Homo sapiens: one gene and its partners. The protein of the gene in region 2 purifies or fractionates together with the protein of the main gene of each other region. This does not show direct contact. Each region holds a gene or a part of one and is shown on either strand. Other genes may lie near its edges. The genes, in order: TBC1D2B, CAV3, CEP95, TULP3, TOM1L1, SHTN1 and REEP1.

The links.
Region 1: the proteins of CAV3 (region 2) and TBC1D2B purify together in Homo sapiens (affinity purification with mass spectrometry; 2 studies listed by BioGRID and IntAct, with this or other methods). This does not show direct contact.
Region 3: the proteins of CAV3 (region 2) and CEP95 purify together in Homo sapiens (affinity purification with mass spectrometry; 2 studies listed by BioGRID and IntAct, with this or other methods). This does not show direct contact.
Region 4: the proteins of CAV3 (region 2) and TULP3 purify together in Homo sapiens (affinity purification with mass spectrometry; 2 studies listed by BioGRID and IntAct, with this or other methods). This does not show direct contact.
Region 5: the proteins of CAV3 (region 2) and TOM1L1 purify together in Homo sapiens (affinity purification with mass spectrometry; 2 studies listed by BioGRID and IntAct, with this or other methods). This does not show direct contact.
Region 6: the proteins of CAV3 (region 2) and SHTN1 purify together in Homo sapiens (affinity purification with mass spectrometry; 2 studies listed by BioGRID and IntAct, with this or other methods). This does not show direct contact.
Region 7: the proteins of CAV3 (region 2) and REEP1 purify together in Homo sapiens (affinity purification with mass spectrometry; 2 studies listed by BioGRID and IntAct, with this or other methods). This does not show direct contact.

Annotation. Positions count from the first base shown.
Region 1 is NC_000015.10:78,067,712-78,071,211, forward strand, and holds part of TBC1D2B (TBC1 domain family member 2B), read right to left. Parts: intron 1-3,500. UniProt on the Homo sapiens protein: GTPase-activating protein that plays a role in the early steps of endocytosis.
Region 2 is NC_000003.12:8,732,401-8,736,601, reverse strand, and holds the start of CAV3 (caveolin-3), read right to left. Parts: upstream 2,801-4,201; 5' UTR 2,726-2,800; coding exon 2,612-2,725; intron 1-2,611. UniProt on the Homo sapiens protein: May act as a scaffolding protein within caveolar membranes. Interacts directly with G-protein alpha subunits and can functionally regulate their activity. May also regulate voltage-gated potassium channels.
Region 3 is NC_000017.11:64,530,977-64,534,476, forward strand, and holds part of CEP95 (centrosomal protein of 95 kDa), read left to right. Parts: coding exon 1-42; coding exon of another isoform or gene 43-46; exon of another isoform or gene 47-913; coding exon 914-1,046; exon of another isoform or gene 1,047-1,862; coding exon 1,863-2,032; intron 2,033-2,140; coding exon 2,141-2,215; intron 2,216-3,500.
Region 4 is NC_000012.12:2,935,891-2,938,764, forward strand, and holds part of TULP3 (tubby-related protein 3), read left to right. Parts: intron 1-1,740; coding exon 1,741-1,839; intron 1,840-2,223; coding exon 2,224-2,395; intron 2,396-2,874. UniProt on the Homo sapiens protein: Negative regulator of the Shh signaling transduction pathway: recruited to primary cilia via association with the IFT complex A (IFT-A) and is required for recruitment of G protein-coupled receptor GPR161 to cilia, a promoter of PKA-dependent basal repression machinery in Shh signaling.
Region 5 is NC_000017.11:54,907,352-54,910,851, reverse strand, and holds part of TOM1L1 (TOM1-like protein 1), read right to left. Parts: intron 1-3,500. UniProt on the Homo sapiens protein: Probable adapter protein involved in signaling pathways. Interacts with the SH2 and SH3 domains of various signaling proteins when it is phosphorylated. May promote FYN activation, possibly by disrupting intramolecular SH3-dependent interactions.
Region 6 is NC_000010.11:116,939,188-116,942,687, forward strand, and holds part of SHTN1 (shootin-1), read right to left. Parts: intron 1,426-3,500; coding exon 1,279-1,425; intron 1-1,278. UniProt on the Homo sapiens protein: Involved in the generation of internal asymmetric signals required for neuronal polarization and neurite outgrowth.
Region 7 is NC_000002.12:86,250,627-86,254,126, forward strand, and holds part of REEP1 (receptor expression-enhancing protein 1), read right to left. Parts: intron 1,445-3,500; coding exon 1,331-1,444; intron 1-1,330.

The DNA of each region.
Region 1 (3,500 bases), on a different chromosome or scaffold from region 2:
AGCTACCAAATCCCCACTTCTCACACTGGATTCTAGTTCTCCCAGGCAATCTCTGCAAAGGCTAAGAAAATGGCCAAGCATGCAAACTCATTAGAAGATGGTGATTCCCAGCTTACAGGGAACACATGTTGCTGATCAAACAGGAACTAAGTCTTTGAGCAGCTACACAATTATACCAACATTTACTAACTCCCTTGTCCCATCTTCTTCAGGGAGCTTTCTTGATAATCAGTTATACAGAACTCTCCAATTCTGCAGTGTTCACCAAAATTATTACACAAATCACAGATTTCTGGCCCTGGGCCATATCCAGATTAGTATTTTACATATGGATGCCCCCTCCCCTTCCTTTACTATGGAGAAGTGCCAGACTTCTCAGAATCAAAAAACTTGCAGACATGTGATATTTATCTCAGTGCTGAATACTACAGACAAACATGGGCCTCTTCAATGTTTTTTTCAAAACTCTTACAATTCTTTGATTATATCAGATGCTAAGCTATTTTTAAAGTTAACACTACAGTTTCTTAAATCAATGGAAAATTTTCACTGCTGTATTTGCAGCAAGCAGCATAGTGCTTAGAATATGATAGATGCTCAAAAATATTTGCTGAGTAAATGGACACTACAAACGTCCGTTTCACCATGAAATGAAAGCACACACACCACACCCACACACACACACACACACACACACACACACACACACAGAGGATATGAGGGCTTAAAGCATGCATTTAGCCAACAAGCATCTAACAGGTGCTGGGATCCTCTAAGTATGAAAGGCACAGTAGTGAAATACACTGACAAAATATCCTAGGAGGTGATGCTCTGGTAGGACACAACAGCAGACACTCAAAGACTAGACCAGGAGCAAAACCATCCTGAATCTGTAGCCGACTGAGGGCCTCCTGTGCTGGCTGGTGAGCTACTGCCTGCTGGACAATCACGAAAGCCACAGTCTCCCCAGGGATCCTCTCAGCTTCTTGCCCCTCACATGGCCTCACATATCTGAATGCCAAGATGTTTACTGAACTGAGCACTCCAGGCAAAGTACTTCACAGAACACTAGTTACAAGCCACTAACTAGTCACCACTACCCAGTTTACCATTTCCACATTGCATTCACTCTGTGAAAGCAAACAAAACCCAGCTGAGGGCTGGCCTGACAGGATATGGGTGAACACCCGATCACATGTCATTAAGATCCCACTACATAAATACCAGAACCGAAAATTGCTAATGAAAATGCCTCTCCCTCTCCCAAACTGACAGTCACTTCTACAATGGTGGGGGTCTTTTTCTTTCTTTAGAGGAAGGGGGTGTTACTGTTTGTATTTTGTTCTGACTGGAGGTGGGAAGTCTGCACCCCAGTGGCTCAAAGGTAAAAGCAACTGATCGAGGAGACTGGTCCACCCCCCTCAGACGTGAGGTGGGAGCTGGTACATCTGAATACTCCTTCCATTTCTCAAGAAATCGTCATCTCCACAGAGGAAGGAAACTGGTAATGTGCATATGAGCAAAGCAAGTGCAGCAGGAGAGAAGTCAATGCCGGGGGCCATTAGGAATGCTTCAGGAAAGGAAGTCCACCAGGGCGGGCCGGCCCTAGCCACACACACACCTGCCAAAGCGAGCTTCACCCATCACAACACCCACCACTCAGAAACAAAATTAAGAAGCAACTGCTCAAGATAGGTTCAGCTTTGCATTTATCTACTTTTAAATCTGTTTGCCAGTACATAACATATAAATACATCAACCCTTTGTACCCAACACGATAATCCTCTAACTTAGTTACATAAAAATACTAGGCATGACCAAACCATCAGTGCCACAGTCCAAACGTGTGTCCCCGCAAAATTCACGTGTTGAGACCCAGTCCCCAAGATGATAGTACTAAGAGGGAAGCCTTGTGGGAAGTGATTTAAGTCATGAGGGCAGAGCCCTCTGGAATGAGATCAGGGTCCTTATGAAAGAGGCCAGAGTGGTAAAAGGAATTTGAGGAGAAAAATACATTTAGATAGATAGATACATACATACATATATACAAACATACATAGATGGAGGCCCCAGAAGGAACTTGTCTGTCCCCTTCTGCTATGAGGACACCACTAGAAGGCACCACCTCTAAAGCAGAGTGAGCCCTCACCAGACACCAAATCTGCTGGTGCCTTCATCTTGGGCTTCCCAGCCTCCAGAACTATGAGAAATAAATTTCTGTTGTTTATAAGCTACCCTGTCTACGGTATTTTTTCACAGCAGCACAAATGGCCTAAAACAATCTATCTGGGAGCAGAAGAAAGAAAACAAAAACCTATTTGTCAAACCCTGCTTAAAACTCTTTACTGACTCTAGCTCTTAAGATGAAGACCAAAATCCTGCCCTGGCCCAAGGCCTGCCTCTTCCAAAGGCTATGTCCCCTTCACTCCTAGTTGCCACCAGGCACTCCTTGAGTCCCACATGCAACCAGCACCCCCACCTAAGGGCCTCTGCTTATGCCATTTCCTCTCCCTACAACACTTGACTTCCTCCTCTCCACCCCCACCCCCGCTCCAGTCAACACCAACTCATCCTTTGAGTCTCAGCTCAAATGTCGCTTCTTCAGGAAAGTCTTTCCTAGCCCTCCACCAACCATAAACCAGATCAAGATCCTGAACTATACATGCATTGCATATCTTTCCTTTCAAACTTCCTAGCACTGGTTGGTGTTTGTTATATTTTATTAACGTCTGTCCCCCCCACCTACTGAAAGCTCCAGGAGGACAGGGACTGTTTGTCTTGTCCAGTCATATCCCCAGTGCCTAAGCACACACAGTGAGTGAATGAGTGGGAAGCTCCTGAGGCCTTCCTAGAACACAAGTCAGTGAACTACAGCCTGCGGTCATTTCCAGTCTCTGCCTATTTCTGTACAATCTACAAGGCAAGGGCAGTTTTAACATTTTTATTTTGCTATTTTATTTTTTTGAAACAGGGTCTCCCTCTGTCACCCAGGCTGGAGTACAGTGGAGCAAACACAGCTCACTGCAATGTCCACCTCCTGGGATCAAGCAGTCCTCCTGCCTCAGCCTCCCAAGTAGCTGGGACTAAAGACATGTGCCATCATGCCTGGCTAGTTTGTTTTTTGTTTTGAGACAGAGTTTCGCTCTTGTCGCCCAGGCTGGAGTGCAATGGCGCCACCTCAGCTTGCTGCAACCTCTGTTTCCTGGGTTCAAGCAATTCTCCTGCCTCAGCCTCCCAAGCAGCTGGGATTACAGGCATCCGCCACCACACCCAGCTAATTTTGTATTTTTAGTAGAGACAGGGTCTCACCATGCTGGTCAGGCTGGTCTCAAACTCCTGACCTCAAGTGATCCACCCACCTCGGCTTCCCAAAGTGCTGGGATTACAGGCGTGAGCCACCACATCCAGCCACACCTGGCTAGTTTTTTTTAATTTTTGTAGGGATAGGGTCTCACTTTGTTGCCTAGGCTGGTCTCGAACTATTGGTATCAAGTGATCCT
Region 2 (4,201 bases):
ATCCAAGGGCTCCCTCTGTACTTACCAGCCATTGTGGGTGCCCTTTAGAAACCATGTTCTCCCGTGGGATCCTCTTTCCCATCTCCCTGCAGCCCACCTGGGTGTACCAGATGGCTACCTGGGCATGACGCAGGCTCCTGGCTTAGCTCTCTTGCCCTCTAGACTGCAAGCTCTTTGAGACCCTTCTTTGACTCACACTGTCTCATCCTTGCTGGGTGCCAGGGACTGTGATAGACACTTTCAAACCCTTCATCTCATTCAATCCTCATGCTATATTTCTAACGCACAGTGCTGCTTTGAGATTCGTTTACCTGGTGGAGGTAAATTGGGAAATGATATTATTCCCACTTTACAGGGGAAACTGAGTCTCAGAAAACCTAGTTGGTTTGTCCAGTGTTATCATTTTTAGGTAAAATGGACTGGATTTGAAATCAAGTCTATTAAAGTCAAGTCCAGGACTATTCCTGCTAGATGACACTGATGGAAACCATAACTAATAATATTTTACAGGTACAATTTTATTTACATGTATATAGTGCTTTACAGTTTGTGAAATTTGTTTCCTAATTTTCCTCATTTCAGCTTTCACACTGTGCTATACTGTATACTCTATCTCCATCACTAACGATGTATAGAAATATAATATCCAGTATAAGAAGAGCTGTGGTGGAGGAATGCCCTGAGTGAAGCAGGGGGACAGAAGTGGGAGCAACTAATTGCCTGGAGGAGTCAGGGAAGGCTTTCTGGAGGAGGTTGCATTTGAGTTGGGCCTTGAAGGCTGAGTGAGGCATTCACCACCTGGAGAAGAGAGGACAGGCACTTCTGGCAATGGCACAGGAATGTACTCTGGTGGGTGGGCTGGCAGGTGGGAGCCAACCAGGCAGAAGAAGCAGGTTGGGGCCAGATTGTGTTGGGTTTGGACAGCCACGTGGAGAGGCTAGGCTTCTCCAGCATGGGAGGTGCCCCACTGAAAGACCGCAATACAGGCCTGTCTGATCCAGTGGCCAGGAGCTTTGAGCGCTTGAAATGTGGCTAGTGAAACTGAAGAATTCTAGATTTTGTTTAACTTTAATTAAAATGTAAACCCCGATTTCATTATTGAAAAATTTTTGCAGAATGTTTGAAACAGTACAGGCATGCGAATCGATTTTCACATGTACATTTTATGAAATCTAAATGCAGAACAAGCATTTCGGATGAAAATGTGGGGTCTGAACTGAAATATACTGTGGGTATAGGAAGCACACTGGATTTCAAACTTGAAGACTGTACAATAGCTCATTGATAATTGTTTTATATTGCTTACATGTTGAAATAATACTATTTTAGATATATAGGGTTAAGTAAGAAATATCAGGAACATTAATTTCACCTGTTTGCTTTCGCATTTTAAAATGTGGCTGCTAGAAAATTTTAAATTCCTTGTGGTAACAGTATCCCTATTGGACAGCACTGGCCTGAGATTCCAATGCTTTCAGTAGGATCTGAGAGGCCTCAGACACTGGCCTCTTAACAGCCCCTCCAGTGACTCAGATGCTGGTGGCTGGGGACCCTTCTTGGAGGAATTCTGCTTTAGAAAGGTACCTCTGAGCCAGTTGTGGAGTCTTGCACCTGTAATCCCAGCACTTTGGGAGGCAGGAGGATCACTTGAGCCCAAGAGTTTGATACCAGCTTGGTCAACATAATGAAACCCAGTCTCTACTAAAAATACAAAAATTAGCTGGGCATGGTGGCACTCGCCTGTGGTCCCAGCTAATCAGGAGGTGGAGGAGGGAGAATCACTTGAGCCTGGGAGGTTGAGGCTGCAGTGAGGCGTGAGTGTGCGACTGCACTCCAGCCTTGGGGACAGAGAGAGACTGTCTCAAAAAGAAAAAAGAAAGATCCCTCTGGGTACTGGCTGGAAGTTGGATTGAAGGTGTGGGCCTGGAGGCAGCAGGGCCGCTAGTGTCACCAGGAGGCGAGGGAAGAGGCCCAACTTCAGACGCTGAGAGACTCCCTGAGGGCTAGACAACCCCGAGCTTTCTCTTCGAGGGTCCCGGGTGCCGTCTGCCCTGTCCTGGCCACTAGACCTGGGGTGAGGGGGTAGCTAGGGGAGGGCTGGGCATGGCCCTCGGCCTTGGGGACAGATATTGGGCAGTGCTCTGGGGGAGTGAGTGTACCTCGAGGGGCTGCCGGCCCTGCTGGAAGCTGCCCTCTGGGGATTAACCCTGCACCCACTGGAGAGACCGCAGAAATGCCCCTTGGCACAGAAAGGAGCCCAACTTGGCCGCCCGTTCCTGTTCCTCCCAGGGTGAGAGCCAGGAGTGAGTGGCAGGAGCGTCACAGTAGTAAGGAGGGATTTTCTTTGTGACTCGCTCCTCCTGCCCTGATTAGCACTTAGGTCATGGAGATGAGGCTAATTTTTTGCTCTTGATTTTGCTAAAGATCCTTCGGTGATTTAGAAGCCTTTTTTTGGGGGTGGGGTGGGGTTGGGGGGGTGATACAGAGACAACAGAGCAACAAGTCTCTTTTCAGGGAAACTGTGTCTGCAGCAGATACCCTCCCCTGCCAAGCGCCCACGTCTCGCAAACCTGACACTCTCCGCCCGCCGAGGCAGGCCTGCAGAGCCTACCTTGACTATGTCCTCGTTAATGTTCTTGGGGTCTCGGTTCACCAGGTCAATCTCCTTGCAGTGGATATCCTTGACGATCTGGGCCTCGAGATCTGTGTGCTCTTCTGCCATCATCGCAGAGCTGGGGGGATCCACAGGAGGAGATCCGAGCTGTGTGGCCGGCTGGGGCTGAAAATACTTGGGGCAGAGAGACCAATTCAGTGTCCCCAGACTTATGTCCCTGCCAGCTAAATAGGCCCCACCCAGCATGCCGGCTGACAGCTGTCCCACATAACTTCAGCCTGCCTCTCTCTAAAGCCTCCTGTGGCAGGCCTCCAAGCTAAAATTAAGACTGGAGCTCTTCTGGAAGGCCGATCGCTCCTTAAAGGGGGCTGCCTCAGGGCACTGGGCCTCAGGAGAGGGTGCAGAGGGCCTAGCGTTTCCTATGCATCGTGTGGCTGTGGCCAACTCGGCGGTCGCTCCGGGGCCCCTGGAATTTGCCCCACTGCTGTCAGCATTTTGGCTCCTTTGGGGTGCACTGCCCGTGGAGGGAAGTGGGGTTAGTCCCTCCTCTGCCTCTGGCTGGCTGTGTGACCTTTGGCACACTTCACCTCTCTAGGCCACTCTGTCCCCATCTGTAAAATGGAGAGATGATAATAACAATCAGGGCTCTCCTACCCAGGGAATGGCTTCAGGAGCTGGAATGCGATGTAGTGGGGCTTCTCGTTGGATTGCCAGTGCCTGGCCCTGCTGCTTGGTGACCTGGAGCAGGTCCGAGCTTTGTGGGTTTCTGAGGTTTCCACCTGGAGCAGGAGTTGATGGACTGTGGTGTGGGGCCAGGCTGGGGATGAAACAGGGAGAGGAAGCTGCTGTGGGGCTGCCCCTCGTCTGCCGTCTGGAGCCTGCACTGGGATATGCCCGGTGGGGGGAACATGAAGTCCATGTTCGTGCTACCCTTCACCCTGCCCTAGTGACAGCTTCCAGGATTTTCTTGGGTCCCAGACACTCCACATGCATCAGTGGGGTGCACCTCTCTTAGATACCTGCTCGGTTTTTCTGTGCCCTCTTCTAACTCAGCCTTCCCCTGGGCTCCAGCAGCATGAAGGATGGCAACTCTGAATCCTCAGGGGTCAGGGTCTGTGCTTCCATTTACCTGTCTATTCACTCCTTCATTCAGGATTTGCTAATAGCTGGGGATAAACAGACCAACAAGGCTCTGTCCGCCTTGAAGTGCTCCCAGTCAAGGTGGGGAGACTAATTAAAACAATAAGTGATTATAATACTGTGCGGTAAGTGCCACAGATCAGAGATATTTTACAAAGAGCTGGTCTTAGAAGTCCATAGGAGTCAGTAACTTACTCTGAGGACACCGGGGAAGACTTCCTGTGGGAGGTGGCTTTGCAGATAGGTATCGAATGACAAGCAGGAGCTCAGCACCTAGAACACTTCAAGTTACAGGATTGTGGATATTGAGGAGTGGTATAGACAGGAATGTTGAAAAGTGTGGAGTGGCTGGAGCACAGGGTGTCTGGGGTTGAGGCAGGAGATACAGCTCAGCTCAGGCCTGGGTGTGCAGCATCCCAAATGTCATACTAAAGAATGTGGATTTTG
Region 3 (3,500 bases), on a different chromosome or scaffold from region 2:
AATATTGGACCTCTAAGAATACATGAGAAGGAGGAGGAAACAGTGGGTAAAAGTCTCCACTGTAATAAATGCCATTTGATCAGATGAGTGGGAAGTACAAAGATGATCTTTTTAAAAGAAGAAGGGGCCAACAGGGCCTTAATCATGAGCTCTTTAGGAAAAGGCAGGATTTCATGTCATGATACAGGACTTGCTTATTAATAAGGCATTCAGGTTGCTAAAATATGACGAGACATGGTTCCAAAGAAAAGTAGTGTTTTTCCGCTACTTAAAACTTCCCATCAGTTTTTAAGGGTTTATTTGACTTAGCAGTTCACCAGGGGCTTAAAAACTACTCTAGGCTGACAAAATTAAAGAAGAGTAAGAGAAGACAGAACATCCTAGTTGGCTATAGACCTGGTTGTAAGAAACCCAAAACAGAAGTTTTCATTGCCTTTCAAAAGAATGGTTACAGAAACTAAGTGAAATCATGGGGAAAATGCTTATGCTAAAATATTCATGAACAAAACAGGATATAAAGTACAGTATGGTTACAACTAAGCATACTGCATAGTTGCCTGAGAATTTTTTAAATCTACATGGAAAAAGAGAAGTACATTGAAACATTAATGGTTAAAAAAAAGATTAATAGTGGTTGTATTTAGGGTGTGGGACTATGGTGACTGAAACTTGAAAAAGATTCAGTGCTTTTTCAAATTCCAAGGGATGCCAGAGGCCAAAAGGTGCATTTAACTTAGAGTAAATGAATATTAACCAGATTTTACAAATTTGAAGTAAGGTGGTTTGGCTTACTGTTAGCTAAAAAACTAAAAAACTACCGTTAGCTGTTTTTGTCAGTATGTAATATTTAAGATGATGTATGAAAGAACTGTTAGACCTTTTATTTTTATTCTGTTTTATATCTGCTTCTAAGGAAAAAATATACAGAGGAGAAGCTGTTCGTAAAGGAACTCCAGAATGTAGTCAGCCCTGGAAGATTTACTCTAGAAAAACCACAACGCAGAGTCTAAGAGGTGGCCTCCCAAAGCCAAATAAAGCAGTTCCAAGTAAGAACCACAGAATTGTACTTTATGGAAAACTGGCAACCTTTGAAAGCATGTGCAACATTCCAAGGACACAGCACTGAAAGCTAACATCCACCAGTTAGCCGAAGAAAGTTTTTTTTTTTTCCCAATCACTGCCATGTGGCTGGTTTTCCGTAGAGGGCTAAAACTCTTCAATAAGGAAGTACTTCAGGGAGGCCTATATATTGGCACCCAAGGAATGCCAGGACTGCCACCTGCTGCTCCAGCGTTAGCCTCACTCGTGTGCTTACTCACTTTGACTGCCTTTTTGTCTATTTCTGGGAGGTTGGTAGAATGAAAGGGATGCTCCAAGGCAAGCAGATGGCCTGTCCACCTCCTATATATTGACAGTGCCAATGAGTGTAGAGTCTTGTTACAAGAAACAAAGTCATGAGAAATGCCAGGCTTCCTGTTACACCCAAAGACTGCTGGCCCTCCTACTCTATCCTTTAGACCAGAAACTTTTTCTTCTAAGCACTTGCCTACCGGGAAGGTTGAGGAGTCTTGTTTTACCGTACGTAGAGAATCTACCCACAGGCACTGAAGCGGCTGAGCAATTAGGATGGACTTCCCAGGACCAGCATGGCATCAATCCAGAACTATTGAGCTTATTTTTATCCTTACCAGTAGTTGGCTTACTCCAATCAGAGGAGTAATGCAAATTATTATAAGTACATTTAGAATTGTTCTTTTCAGGATCAAAACCACATCACTTACATAAGCTTTGATCTACCAGGGATGTTGGATGACAGTTCTTGTCCACGTCTCAGATTAAGAACATCTTATTTTACCTTGCAGTGAAAGTAAGTGAACACAGTCTCCTGCCCCTTATGCTGGAGCAGTTTCCGTTTCTTTATGTTTCTGGCCCAACACTAAGCAAAATGTGGAAACAGCAAATTGCACAGGTTGAACAGCTTAAGAAAGAAGCATGTAGAGAAAATCGATCAAAGAAGAAACTCCAAGATGAAGTAAGTTACTGTCAGTCTTAAGCATAGGAATTTAAATGAGAAGAGCTTATCCTTAAGAATTTAGTGAACAGCATTATTAACCTACTTAACTTCATGTCCCCCTTCAAGATAGAAGAAGCCCTAAGAAGGCATGACCTCCTTACTACCCTTGTCAAGAAAGAATATGAACATAACAAGAGACTGGTATGTCAAGAGCAAGTTGGGTATTATAATTCTGAATTTGTTATATTCATTCCCTTTATCTGTGCTAGCTGGGCAACAGTTGCACAGACCCTTAACCTCTTAACACCTGCATGTGGAAGTGTTGCCTAGGTCTTTAACCAAAATTGATAGCCCATGCCTGTAATCCCAGCACTTTGGGAGGCTGAGGTGAGAGGATCACTTGAGACCAGCCTCAGCAACATAGTGGGACCCTGTCATTAAAAATATATATATGGGTGTGGAAAAAATGAGCCTGGCATGGTGGCATTTGCCTGTGGTCCCAGCTACTTGGGAGGCTGAAGTGGGAGGATCACTTGAACGTGGGAGGGCGAGGCTGCAGTGAGCTATGATCTTGCCACTGCACTCCAGCCTGGGTGCCAGAGTGAGACCCTGTCTCAACAACAACAAAACACACAAACCCAAAATGGGCAGGAGGAAGAGCTAGGTACTTTATATACACAGTTTCAGTTAGTCTTCATAGTAATGTATTAGAGATGTTTTCTATGAAATGAAAACCCTGAAGCTTTGAGATACTAAGTAACTTGCCCTGGGTCTCACTGATAAGCAAGGGACACAGCTGAGATTTTAATCCAGTTCTGTCTGTGGACTCCATGGACCCATCTAGGTGCCAAGCAGCTGAACTTAGTGCTGTTTGCCCTCTCCCATCCTTCTCAGGTCCCAAGTAGAGAGCTCCAGGATTTATCAGCCTCCGTTATAATTTTGACTAGGAATTGTGCTTAGAGAATTACGAAGGGAGAGGATGGAGGTCAGAAACAATCTGCCAAAGGGAGAGATTTAAAAATCTTTGCCTGAGTGTGGAGTAGAGATAAGCCATGAGAACTGTAATACTGAACAGTTCCAGGAAGACATCTCAGGAACTGCAGATGGTACTTTCCTGTGGAGGGAAAAAACACTAGTATCTGAAACACCTACATAAGAGGCTTTATGTACATGACCCCATTTTATTTTCACTCCTTTGTCAGATACTGTCTAATTTCCTTAGTTTTTGCCTAAATGCTCCTGGCAGCTCAGGCTCTGCTTGAAAGTCTGGGTGTGCCATTTTCCTACTCCTTGTGAGGTGGCATCTGGGCCAGCCTTGTTAGCAGCTTCCTGGTGGCATGGGGAGTGAGCCCTCAGTTCCACAGGAGTGCCCAGGATCACTGCTGCCCTCTGCTGCAGTGGGGTGTTATTGGAGCTGCTCTTCAGATTGAGGTGATAAAGCTGCCAAAGGCTGAAGGGCTTCTGGGGCCACTGGCCCCCCACACGT
Region 4 (2,874 bases), on a different chromosome or scaffold from region 2:
CTTAGGAGGGTCGAGGCTGCAGTGAGCCGTGATCACACCATGCACTCTAGCCTGGGCGACAGCATGAGACCCTGTTTAAAAAATAATAATAATCGGCCAGGCGTGGTGGCTCACGCCTGTAATCCCAGCACTTTGGGAGGCCGAGGCCGGTGGATCACCTGAAGTCAGGAGGTGGAGACCAGCCTGGCCAACATGGCAAAAACCCGTCTCTACTAAAAATACAAAAAAAATTAGCCAGGCGTGGTGGCAGGCACCTGTAATCCCAGCTACTCGGGAGGCTGAGGCAGGAGAATCGCTTGAACCCAGGAGGCAGAGGTTGCAATGAGCCAAGATTGTGCCACTGCACTCCAGCCTGGGTGACAGAGCAAGACGCCATCTCAAAATAAAATAAGAATAATCTGCTTGGCTTGACAGGCATTTTTAATACCTAGTGCAGGCCTTATTTAACCACAACTAATTTTCACTGTATGTAATATAGTGCTATGCCCTCACTGGGAAATAAATATGTGTTGGTGCTGACAAAGTTGAACAGTTTGTTCACAGTTATCTCAAATCACATTTAAGACTCAAGAGTAAGAGGCCGGGCGTGGTGGCTCACTCCTGTAGTCACAGCACCTTGGGAGGCCAAGATGGGCGGATCACCTGAGGTCGGGAATTCGAGACCAACATGGAGAAACCCCGTCTCGACTAAAAAAAAAAAAAAAATACAAAATTAGCCGGGTGTGGTGGCGCATGCCTATAATCCCAGCTACTCAGGCTGAGGCAGGAAAATTGCTTGAACCCGGGAGGCGGAGGTTGTGGTGAGCTGAGATTGTGCCATTATACTCCAGCCTGGGCAACAAGAGTGAAACTCTGGTCCCAAAAAAAAAATAGTTAAGAGTAAACTCTCAAGCCAAGAGATTCTGTTTTAAATGTAGGTGTTTAAAGAAGGTATAGGCCAGGTGCAGTGGCTCACGCCTGTAATCCCAGCACTTTGGGAGGCTGAGGCAGGCAGATCACGAGGTCAGGAGATCGAGACCATCCTAGCCAACTTGGTGAAACCCCGTCTCTACTAAAAATACAAAAAATAATTAGCCAGGCGTGGTGGCATGCGCCTGTAGTCCCAGGCTGAGGCACAGGAATCGCTTGAACCCAGGAGGTGGAGATTGGAGGTTGCAGTGAGCTGAGATTGTGCCACTGCACTCCAGCCTGGCGACAGAGCGTGACTCTGTCTCAAAAAAAAAAAGAGAAGTATAAAGAGATATAATATTACTTTCCTGTTTTTGATTCTGTTTACAGCAAAGTAATAAAATTATTTTTGGTACACCTGATTTTTTTTTTTTTTTTTTTTTTTTTTTTTTTCTGAGGCAGAGTCTCACTCTTGTCGCCCAGGCTGGAGTGCAACGGCGTGATCTCGGCTCACTGCAGCCTCTGCCTCCTGGGTTCAAGCAATTCTCCTGCCTCAGCCTCCCGAGTAGCTGGGATTACAGGCGCCTGCCACCACGCCTGGCTAATTTTTGTATTTTTAGTAGAGACAGGGTTTCACCATGTTGGCCAGGCTGGTCTCAAACTCCTGACCTCAGGTTATCTGCCCACCTCGGCCTCCCAAAGTGCTGGGATTATAGGCGTGATCCACTGCCCCGGCTGATACAGCTGATATTGTCAGCATCTTACATTCCCAAGAAAGTCTCATGTTATAAAAGAATGTGGTCTCTATTTTTTTCCTGTTTCCAAGTTCTGCTTTGTTTTCCTATCTTCCAGGAAACAAACGTACTTGGATTTAAAGGTCCTAGGAAAATGTCTGTGATCATTCCTGGAATGACACTGAATCATAAGCAGATCCCCTATCAGCCACAAAACGTGAGTAAGAATGTATTTAAATCAGTGAAAGACTCTAAAAGACAGTAGTACAATACACAGAGATTAATACAAAAAAAAAAAAAAAGATTGAGCTTCCAGAGCCCCACACTGGAGATAGCTCCATACACTTCTTTAGGAAAGCTGCCCCTCCAAAACCTCAGGATAAGAGCAGTTGCAGAGTCATTGCCTTGAAACCATTTTTTCTACAAAGAGAAATGCTGGATGATGTAGAATAATTTTAAAAAAAACCTGTCTTCATTGTTGGCTTTCATTCTTCGCTTCTGGTTTACCCTTTCTGAAATGGAGAAAGTATTCTCCTACTCTACCTTCTACCTCGTAGAGTTGGAGTTCTCAGTACAAAGTAATGATTTTCCCTTTGGACAGAACCATGACAGTTTGCTCTCAAGGTGGCAGAACAGAACTATGGAAAATCTGGTTGAGCTGCACAACAAGGCCCCCGTCTGGAACAGTGACACTCAGTCCTATGTCCTCAACTTCCGTGGCCGGGTCACTCAGGCGTCTGTGAAGAACTTCCAGATAGTCCACAAAAATGACCGTAAGCCTCCAGGAGGGGTTGGGTGGGAAGAGGAGGACAGATGCTCTTACAGGATGGGAATGCACATTCCCTGTACATGATAGGAAGTGACAGTCAGCAGATAATCATGGAGGAGAGACAGGATTTCTTTGGAAAGATGAAACTACAGTTTTAGAGAAAACTTGTAAATCACTGTGTTGAGGAGGGGAGAGGAGTGTGAGAGAGATGCTATAGCAAATCAGAGAAGTTGGCTGGGCACCATGGCTCACGTCTGTAATCCCAGCACTTTGGGAGGCCGAGGTGGGCAGATCGCTTGAGACCAGCCTGGGCAACATGGTGTGAAACCCCATCTCTACAAAAAATAGAAAAATTAGCTGGGCGTGGTGGCAGGCACTTGTAGTCCCAGCTACCCGGGAGGCTGAGGTGGGAGCATCACTTGAGCCAGGAGGTCGAGGCTGCAGTGAGCTGAGATTGCATCACTGCTCTCCAGCCTGGGTGAC
Region 5 (3,500 bases), on a different chromosome or scaffold from region 2:
GTTATACTTAAAACGCTATAGTTTTAAGGCACTGTGACCAAGAAATAATCAGAAAATATAGAAACATGCAGCTGTGTGAAACACAGGGAAAACCTTTAAGGCAAAGAAAAATAAAAACAAAATCCAAAACATATTAAGATGAATCTGTACAGTTTGGTGAGACAAAGTTGGAAAGTTGAATAACATGCCATTTAGCTTGATGGATTATTATAATGAATTTTTAACGGGCGAAATCCTAAAAGGAAAAGTGCTTCTAGCTCAATGTGAGTTTACAGAAATATTTCACCTAACTAGTTGTACCGTCTTACGCAAATACCTAGCCTCCAAGTCTCACTCTCCCTAGGTGTATTTCTTGCTAAATAATTCGCAAACCAATTTTTGTTTGTTTGTTTGTTTGAGACAGGGTCTCACTCTGTCACCTAGGCTGGAGTGCAGTGGCGCAATCTCGACTCACTGCAACCTCTGCCTCTCCGGTTCAGGTGATTCTCATGCCTCGGCTTCCCAAGTAGCTGAGATTACAGGCGTGCACCACCATGCCCAGCTAATTTTTGTATTTTTAGTAGACATGGGTTTTCGCCATACTGGCCAGGCTGGTCTCAAACTCCTAGCCTCAAGTGATCCATCCACCCCGGCCTCCCAAAGTGCTGGGATTACAGGCATGAACCACTGCACCTGGCCCTCACAAACTAATTTTTATCTTTGGTGCCACAAGATTTTATGATAATGGGTAAGACTCCCAGGAGGTACATGCACAAAATCAAAGAGTCAACATGAAATGCTAAAAATGTGAACATCTGGAGATTAGCAGTCATGCCTTTTGTGTTTTCCCATTAGAATCAAGAATGTCAGGACTAATTAATTCTACATCACCTCCTCTATTATGTCACCAGAACCTCTTTCACCCTCCAACTCACTCAGATAAGTAATAAAACCTACGTGGCAAATTGGAAAAATTAAATATGTTTTCACATATTCTGAAATTGAACTTTGATGCAAATGTGTTCAGATAACCCATCTTTCGAAATAAGACAAATAAGAATCCATAATCTGAGGTGGGATTGAAAACTCAGGAGCCAAGGAACAAAGACTGAAGTGGGTGACTCCAGGCTTCACTGATCTTTTGGGCTTGGCTGGGCAAATCACTTATCCTAAGCTTCAGTGTCCTTATCTGCAAAATGGACATAATATCTCCCTCTAGAGACTTGTTGTAAGGCCCAAATGAAACATAACAAAGAGCCTGCCACAAAGCAGGACCTCAATACATGGCAACTATTTAGATCATCTTCCATGGAGAACTTCCTAGCAGGAGTGAATGTGATGATTAGCTGATCTAAGTATTTTAAGAGAGGGCTGGAAGAAAAAGAGGTAGTTGACAGTTTTCTCACTGTAAATTTCCAAACCAGGCAGAGTGACAACAACCAGGTTTCAGGGCCATCAGAGCTACACCTGGGCCGTGAATAGTGCCTACACCAAGGTGACTACCCCACTCTATGATGACACCCCTAGGACAGGCCTCAGTCTTCTCACTCCCTCCAACTGCAACAAGCTCCTGGGGGGACAACCACATGGTTTTGTTTTGCTTTGTTTTGCTTGGATACAGAGTCTCGCTTTGTCACCCAGGCTGGAGTGCACTGGCACAATCTAGGCTCACTGCAACCTCCGCCTCCTGGGTTCAAGCAATTTTCCTGCCTCAGCCTCCCGAGTAGCTGGGATTACAGTCACATGCCACCATGACTGGCTAGTTTTTGTATTTTCAGTAGAGACAGGGTATTACCATGTTGCCCAGGCTGGTCTCTAACTCCTGACCTGAAGTGATCTACCCTCCTCGGCCTCCCAAAGTGCTGGGATTACAGGCATGAGCCACTGCACCCAGCCTGATATTTTGTTTCACTGGTAAATTTGCCAAAGGAGAATAAACCAAGCTTTTTCTTCATTATTATTTTCAACCACATTTTACACATTTTATGAAACCCCTGAAGCTCACTGCTTAGGGGGTGCTCCACAAAGGCCTATTAACTAATTGATTCTCAGGAACCTGTTCGACCACTTTCCATTTGACAATAATAGTAGCCTCTTGCTGAGATTTATCACAATTGACTCATTCAAGAACAGAATACTCTCTGGCTCAGAGTAATAAAGCCTGGTAACAAAATTCTGCTGAAACACAAAACAAAACTGCTCCACCGACTGATGGTAGGAAATCATAGTACAGTCAGGTTCCGTCAAAGCCCAATCAAGGCTAACACGTCCACGGAGAACTCAACATGACAGATAACATAAAGAATATTTATAATCGAATTTGACAGGCTCTCATCACTTTACATTAATAAAATGGAAATGTCATATATAGGGATTACATTTTAAAGAGTTTACTGGTAAACTTATAATTGCTTTTGACAGACATAGGTGACTCCTGTGACTAATTTCCCTCATAATTAAATTTGGCTTACGTGAATATTAAAGTCAGTTCTGAGGCCTTAAGCATACCTCTGCAAGGCAGTGAGTAGTCTGAGACGAGGTGACTAGACCATTAAATACACAACTCAGGGAAATCAGCATGAAGATATGAAGAGTCAAAGGCCTATTTAAAGAAAATCCAAGGAAAAGCCAGATGTTTTTCCTGACTTTAATGTACTGTGACCCCAAGGATGAAGGTGTATTCTGACCTATGACTTGTGACTCTTGCCTGTTTTTAGGCACAGGCTTTAGATTGGACAGAAACCACGAGGTAAGGGAGCTACAGATCTGAGGTGGAACAGATAATGGGAAAGGCAGCGAGCAGATTAGACTACCTGATGAGAAGGAAGAGTGGAAGCCCAAAGAGAAACAGAGGGCCAGAGGCACAACACTCTGGAATAGCCCAACTTCCTCAAGGAGGGTCCCTGGTCCGTCGTCACAGGGAGGGAACCATGATGGAAGAAGATATGGAGGTGGGATTAAGAAGCAACCACTGAAACATCAAGTAGGCTGGGCACAATGGAGAAAGCGGCAAATTGTTATGAATGGTGAACACCTGTAAAAAGCAAAATAATAATACCCCATGCTGAAATAGAGAAGGGGGCATAAATTCATCTTCTGCCCTTCTCTTCCTTACTCAATTCTCCTAACCTTTGGCACCCTTGAGATATCCCAGATATACTATATTTGAGGGTACATCTACACATCTTTCTACTCCGGTTCTACAGTACCTTCCATTAGCCCTTGAGTCTTCCCGGATACTAGGAGAGACGGGATTAGGTGTGTGTATGAGGGTGGGGTGCTTAATCATTAATCCAGTCAACATCTGATATACCTGGCCCTGTACTACACAGGAAGAAACTAAAGACATAAAGGAAACACAGTAGCCTACTCTTTTAAGAGGCTTGATTCGTTCTTAGAAACAAAGTGGCATGAGGCAAGGGCATGGAATTTAGAATCTGAGGACTGGGATCAAATCTTGCCTATGCTATGTAATAGCCATTTTCATCTCGGAAATAAATCTGTTTCTGTTAGTCTCAATT
Region 6 (3,500 bases), on a different chromosome or scaffold from region 2:
TGGAGTTCCAGGTGCCACTGGAGTATGAAGAAACACTCCTGCAGCTAGTTTGGTGTCTGCCCAAATGGCCACCCAGTTTTGTGCTTGAATCCCAGGGCCCTGGTGGTGTAGGCACCCAAGGCAATCTCCTGGTCTGTGGGTTGCAAAGATGGTGGGAAAAGCGTAGTATCTGGGCTGGAGAGCACCATTCCTCACAGCACAGTCTCTCGTGGCTTCCCTTGGCTAGGAGAGGGAGTTCTCCAATCCCCTGCACTTCCCGGGTGAGGCAACACCCCACCTTGCTTCAGCTCACCCTTCATGGGCTGCACTCACTGTCCAACCAGTTCCAGTGAGATGAGCCGGGTACCCAATGCAGAAATCACCCGCCTTCTGCGTTGATCCCGCTCGGAGCTGCAGACCGGAGCTGTTCGTATTCGGCCATCTTACCAGCCACCATATATCAACATTTCTTATTGAGGCAAAACAAATCAACTCAACCTCACCACCAAGTTTGTAAAAACTTCAGAACTTCCAAGGATTAAATGTCAATACTGTTGCCACAGAGGCTTTGACAGGTGGTAACAAGTAGCAGCTAACAGCCTTTCCTTCCCAAATGAGGTACATTATAAGTAGTATAAACATTGATGTAATTTTTCTTAAGTGGTCTCTTTAATTTGGAAGTCTTTGTTCCACTTCTTTGCTTCTCCTCTCACCTACCACAATGACTATCCTTTCTTCTTGGCACACAGAGGTAGGCTGTGTCAGCTGGAATAGCTCCACTCATCAAATTGAAATAATCACTTAGGAAGTCTTTAAACATACACATTTGTGCAAGTTTACAAAATCAAAAATTTTCTCTAAGCAAACAATTACTACTAATACGGACTGTCATTTTCTTTGAATAAAACCTATGCCCTCCAACAAGTGCTCTGAGTTGAATACAGCCTCTTAGTGTGTGCAGTCTCCAAAAAATATAACATTTCCAAAAATTGAATTTCCAGACTTTGCCTTATCCAAGCTGTTTTTAAGTTATACCTCTTTCCCTTGCTTCTTCCGACCCTTTGGACAGTTTAAAGATTATTATAAAGTCTATAATAGCGTATTACAAATTTCAGTTTCACAACATTAAGTTCATTTAGTTATTTTTTTCTAAAAGGTGGTTGAAAGCACTTAGTAACTAAGGCAAAATATGAAACAGTAAATGACTGGACTGACTGCACTGGCTCCCTTCATCTTAAATATATGTGTGTATGCATGTATGTGTGTGTGTACCTAAGATTCCAGAAGAAAATGGGTTACCTTTTGTTGATGCTGAATTCTCTCTTCTTCAAGTTGCTGGGTGAGTTTTGCATTTTCGTCTAAAGCTTTCAAAAGCTGCTGATCAGGGATGGAGCTCTGCAGCAGAAGGTGGCTTTGTCTCTTTAGCTTGTTTTGCTCAATGAACATCTGCAAAAGTTTGTTACAAGAATGTATATATCAATCAATCTCACATACCTCCTCAACTGTAACTTCAGCAAAAGAAAAGTACATGGAATTTTTATTAAATCATTAAAGGCAAATTCTGACTTCTATAAGTTTTAGAAGTAGTGATTGCTATGATTTCATTCCTTTTATATAATCTTTAATACCTTTACTCCTGCCCCAACAAGATATTTATACAATAAGCTGGTCTTACTCTTCAGTTTTTAATATTTTATTATTGCTTTAAGATACATTAATATTAATAGTAGTAGCTAATATTTCTCAAGAATTTACCTTGTGTACTCCACTAAATATTTTATATGGATTATTTTAATCCTTACATCAATCCTATTAAAGTGCTTCTACTATGAATAGGTAACATTTACTAAACACTATGTGATAGATATGGTGGGAATCATTTTACATTCATTATATCATATAATCCTTAAAACAACACTATCAAGTAGACACTACTATCATCTAATTTTACTAATAAGGTAACTGAGGCTCAAAGAAGTTAAGCAACTTTCCCAAGAACACACGTAAGTGACAAGACCAGGACTTAAACCCATATCTGATTTACATGCCCAAGCTCTTAACCATCTGGCTAAGTTCCTCTACTATTTGCTAGATCTAATGTTTTGTTTTAAACTAATTAGTTTCTCCCTAGTGATAAAAGTAGTTAACAGTAGAAGGGTAAAGGGGAGAAGGGAGACAGTATATTTTATTGAGCACTGTATTAAGCAATTTATATGTTATTCATCAAATCCTCACAACTTTACATGATTGAAAATAATATTGATTTCTATTTACCTGTTATTTCTTTTCCTTAACACTCTACCCAATTTGGCCAGTGAGTGATTCCAAGTATGAAATGTTTTTGTAAACTCTGAAATCTGGCCTACCAATTTTATAATAGAGCTTCACCTTTTCAGATTTTTAACAGCATTTTAAAATTTACATTATAACTTAACTGAAAGCTCTGAACTGCAAAATGATTTGCTAAAGCCCTCATATTAGTTTGTTCAACAACTTCACCCATCATGTAACAGAAAAAGTCAGCAAATAAAACTCAGGACAAAAATATTTTCCATCAACCTCCATGTGGCAAGACCACAGCTTTAATGATTTATACAATCCTTAAGCTCTTGATCAGTATCGACTTCCACATCAAAGTCAAGTCATGAATACAGTATACTAAAACACTAACATTTTCTTCCCAGTATGTCTTCCTATGAAAGGGAAAAAAAGGTCAGAAGCTTTCCTTCTTTGCCTAGGGATTTATGAAAAGCCTACAAAACTACGACAGGGTTCTTCTGCAGAATTAAAACACATTACAAAGTCAAACAGGTAAATAAACAATTGCATATACATGAAACCCACATTCTTCTTCCATTTGTGTGAGAGTGAGAGGTATAGAGACTGCAGTGAGGAAGAGTATGTGCATGTACACTTGGCTGGAGAAGGGTGAGATGCAGCTTCAGCATTCTAAGAAAGAGTAATCAATATTTCATCACAGTATCTTAAACTTCAGACCAGTGATTTAATTAAAATGAATTGTTTTGGGTGACCATTATGATTACAGTAATTTTTTTTTTTTTTTGAGATGGAGTCTCGCTCTGGCACCCAGGCTGGAGTGCAGTGGCACAATCTCGGCTCACTGCAACCTCTGCCTCTCAGGTTCAAGTGATTCTCGTGCCTCAGCCTCCCAAGTAGCTGGGACTACAGGTGCCTGCCACCATGCCTGGCTAATCTGTGTATTTTTAGTAGAGATGGGGTTTCACTATGTTGGCCAGGTTGGTCTTGAACTCCTGGCCTCAATTGATCCCCCCGCCTCGGCCTCCCAAAGTGCTTGGATTACAGACGTGAGCCACCATGCCTGGTCAAAAAATTTAATTATGTTGAAGAAATTTAAAATTTTAATATAGTTATGAAGACAACTGATAGTTTTCTTGTTGAGGGGGATTAAGTTTTTGGTTTTGTTTTTTAAATGAACTAGCGGGAGTTAAGAATGGGGGGTAACTTTCAATTTTTATTTTATACATTTAGAAAATATTTGT
Region 7 (3,500 bases), on a different chromosome or scaffold from region 2:
ACCCCGAGATCTGCCACATGGAGTGGCGGGATACCTAGCTACAATTCTGTGTTATAGATGGAGCTGGTCTTGTCTGAAAGAGGAATCATTCATTTTTGGTTCCCCTTCCCTCTTGTCCAGGCTTTGTCTGCAGAATTCCTTGGCTTCCTGAAAGGTACTTTTCAAGCAACTACCCGGCCCAGTGTGCTGAGTCTCTTCCAGAAATGATCCTAATGTGCTTCTCTTTGGTTCAGGGCAAGGAAAACCCAGCTCAGTCTCTTGAAACTGGCTCTCAGCACCCTCCATCCTGCCATCCGCACAATGTTCATAGAGCACCAAGATCTGTACTAATCATCTTCTTGCAAACCTTTTAAGCCCCATCGCCTCCTTCCCCAAAACCCTCACATCACCACAAGGGACAAACTTCCTTATGCTAATACAACTCACCTCCCAACCACTGTGTCTTTCCAATCATCAGCATAACTGCCTTCCCTCCACCACCAGCCGAATGTAGGTCCCTACTCCACACATGGTTGTTGGGGAAGGGCTTGTCCCTGGGGAACACTAGGATGATCTGCTGATTTCACATGAGAGGAAATATCTGACCAATTTAACTTTTCAGATCTACGTAAATAATGACAAATTGACGACAACAAGAGGGTGATATGAGAAGATGCTAGGAAGAAACACAGTTTTGAAAAGGGCTGGAGAGAATAGAGAAAGAAGTAATGCTCACACCACAACATCCCACAGACTGGTGTTTATTTCAAACCTCCTCCACTTCAGTTGTTATGGCTTGGCACATTACTGACCTCCATGTCTGGACCACTCAACTTATTCTAGGACCTGGGTTCCTTCCCCTGGATCTGCTGGGCCACATGATCGTGAGTGAGTCCACCCGCTTGCTCAGGTAGTCTCTCCACCTGTCCACTGCATTTAGGCGACTCTCCCAGTGCACCCTAGGAAACTGCAGAGAAGCACTCTCTCCCTCTCTCCCCTGCCCTCTTCTGTTTCTCCCAGGCCTAAGTGCCAAGTAAGTTAGAAATTCTATTATTTTCTTGTTTCCAGTGGGGTTGGATAAGTTAGAAATTCTTAACCTGGGACGCACAGATGAGCTTCAGGGGCTCTGGGAACCTCTTGATATTGCAAGTATGTGGGCATGTGTGTTGGGGGGTGAGAATTTTCTGGGGCAAGATTCAGCATTTTTTTCCATCAGATTTTCAAAAGGACCCCTAAAAGATGAAAAACCACTGATTGGTCCTTAGCCTGTTCTGTGTGGTCGCACAGGTGATGAGCAGGGCACACTAGAGGGACTGAGACTCATGTAGTTGTGGTACTTCCAGCACAGTACCTTGGAAGCAGCCATCACAGCCGCTGTGGCGGCCACGTTCAAGCCCCGCTTCCCGAAGTGCACAAGGGCATCGTAACTTCGGTCTTTTGCTTGGACCAGACAATCATCGATTTCCTGTCAAAGGAAAAACAGAGGCACACTGAGCTGGAAGGTTCAAACACATCTCTGTTTTCTTTCCTTTCCTCTGAGCATTGGGCTTGGCAGCTTGCCCAATCCTTGTTCTTGCTGGGCCTGAAAAGCTGTAGGCACTTTGAAGGTGTGCGTGCAGAGGGGAGAGCAGAGATACAGGAGAGTAGAAAAGGGAACTCTGAAAACACTGCAACTTACGGATCCAGCGATGCCCTGAGATTGTTTCTAAAGCCCTCTGACCTTCCAGGAGGCTCCAGGAGGTTCTGGATATGGACAGCCTTGCCTGCCATTCTACACACAGCCACTCACCAGACACTGAAAGCACCCAGGGTGGAGAGAGTGCCCAGAACCGAGCTTCTAGCCTCAGACCTGCCACCAACTGACTGCCAGACCTTGGCAAGCCTCTCTACACACAGTTTTAGTCTTCTGAAAAACGAGGATAATGATAATACCCAACTTGCGGAGCATGGTGAGGATTAAATGAGGTAATTCCAGTAAAACATCTAACACAGTGGCTAGTTTCAATAAATGATAACCATGTCATCTTCCTTATCTTGACAGGGTTGAGCCCTTGCAGTTCTAAAATTCTGTTATTCTATAGTTATTTAATTCTAAAATCAAATATCACCCCATTTGTATATCGATGGGAGGGATTACAAAGCTGAAAGAAATGAGTATTACTGGATAAGGGAGATTGTTTTACACATATTCAAATAAAATCAGAAATTAGAAGTCATCCAGTGTCATGCAACAAGGTAAAGGTGAGATGGAAAACAGGATTGAGGTCTTCTTCAGGGACCAAAGCCAAGTACAATATTGGTTTAGTTCAAATTTGGATTAACTTTGGTGTATTATTTTTGTTTGTTTGGGAGTGTTTTGTTGTTGTCATTGTTTTAAGAAAATGGCTGTTTGTCGGCCGGGTGCAGTGGCTCACGCCTGTAATCCCAGCACTTTGGGAGGCCAAGGTGGGCGTATCACCTGAGGTCAAGAGTTCGAGACCAGCCTGGCCAACATGGTAAAACCCCATCTCCTCTAAAAATACAAAATGAGTCAGGCATGGTGGCACGTGCCTATAGTCCCAGCTACCTGGGAGGCTGAGGCAGGAGAATTGCTGGAGCCCAGGAGGCAGAGGTTGCAGTGAGCCGAGATCGTGCCACTGCACTCCAGCCTGGGCAACAGAGCAAGATTCCGCGCCCCCCACCCCCCAAAAAAAGGCTGTTTTTCATGACAGCTGCTCATTTCAGAGTTCGGTAAGACAATGACATTTGGCCTTAGTCAAGTTCTGTGCATTAGTGTATTTCCATTGCTTTGAGGTGTGCAAGTGGGTCAGCAACCTCCTGCTGGATTCCCTGTGGAAGGCTTCCCCAGGAAGTCATAGCAGCAGGCCCTCTAACTGTGACCTGCCTGTCCCCCACCACCACCCCTTTGGAAGTGATTCTTGGCAACTCTTAAGAGTCAGTCACCTTCACTTCAATGGAAGTTACATTGGCAGCTTCAGGGGAAGCCCAGCATTTGGGGAAAGGGAAGTAAGACGAGTAGGGATTTGATAACCAGGTCAAGACAGGGATCCGTTCCTCAAAATCCACCCTTCTGAGACAGGAAGTGCTGCGGTCCGAGTTCCTAAAGAGATTTTCCGAAACTTGTACAGTAGCCTGCTCATCCAACGGATATGTTTCCCAAAGCCTTCCCCTTTCTAGTCCAAGGAATTCAACTTTCAGAAACAATAGACATTAATCTGTCAAGCCACCTATAATGCTCCTATTTTAGTTAAGAAACCCCACTACACAATCAGCTTAGTAAGTAATACAGTTAACGAATGATACAATGTTGGAATCGTTTGACTTAATAATCCTGCTCTTGGGAATTAATTCTAAGACAATTAAAGGAAGCAACTAAACTCCAGGAATGGTAGTGCTCACTGCAGAACTATCTATATCAGGAAAAGGTAGAGATAATCTAAATATCTAGCAGTAAGGGAACATCATCATGGGTATTACGAAGACCAAGTAGAAATGGATTTGTGTGCAAACACATTTAAAAT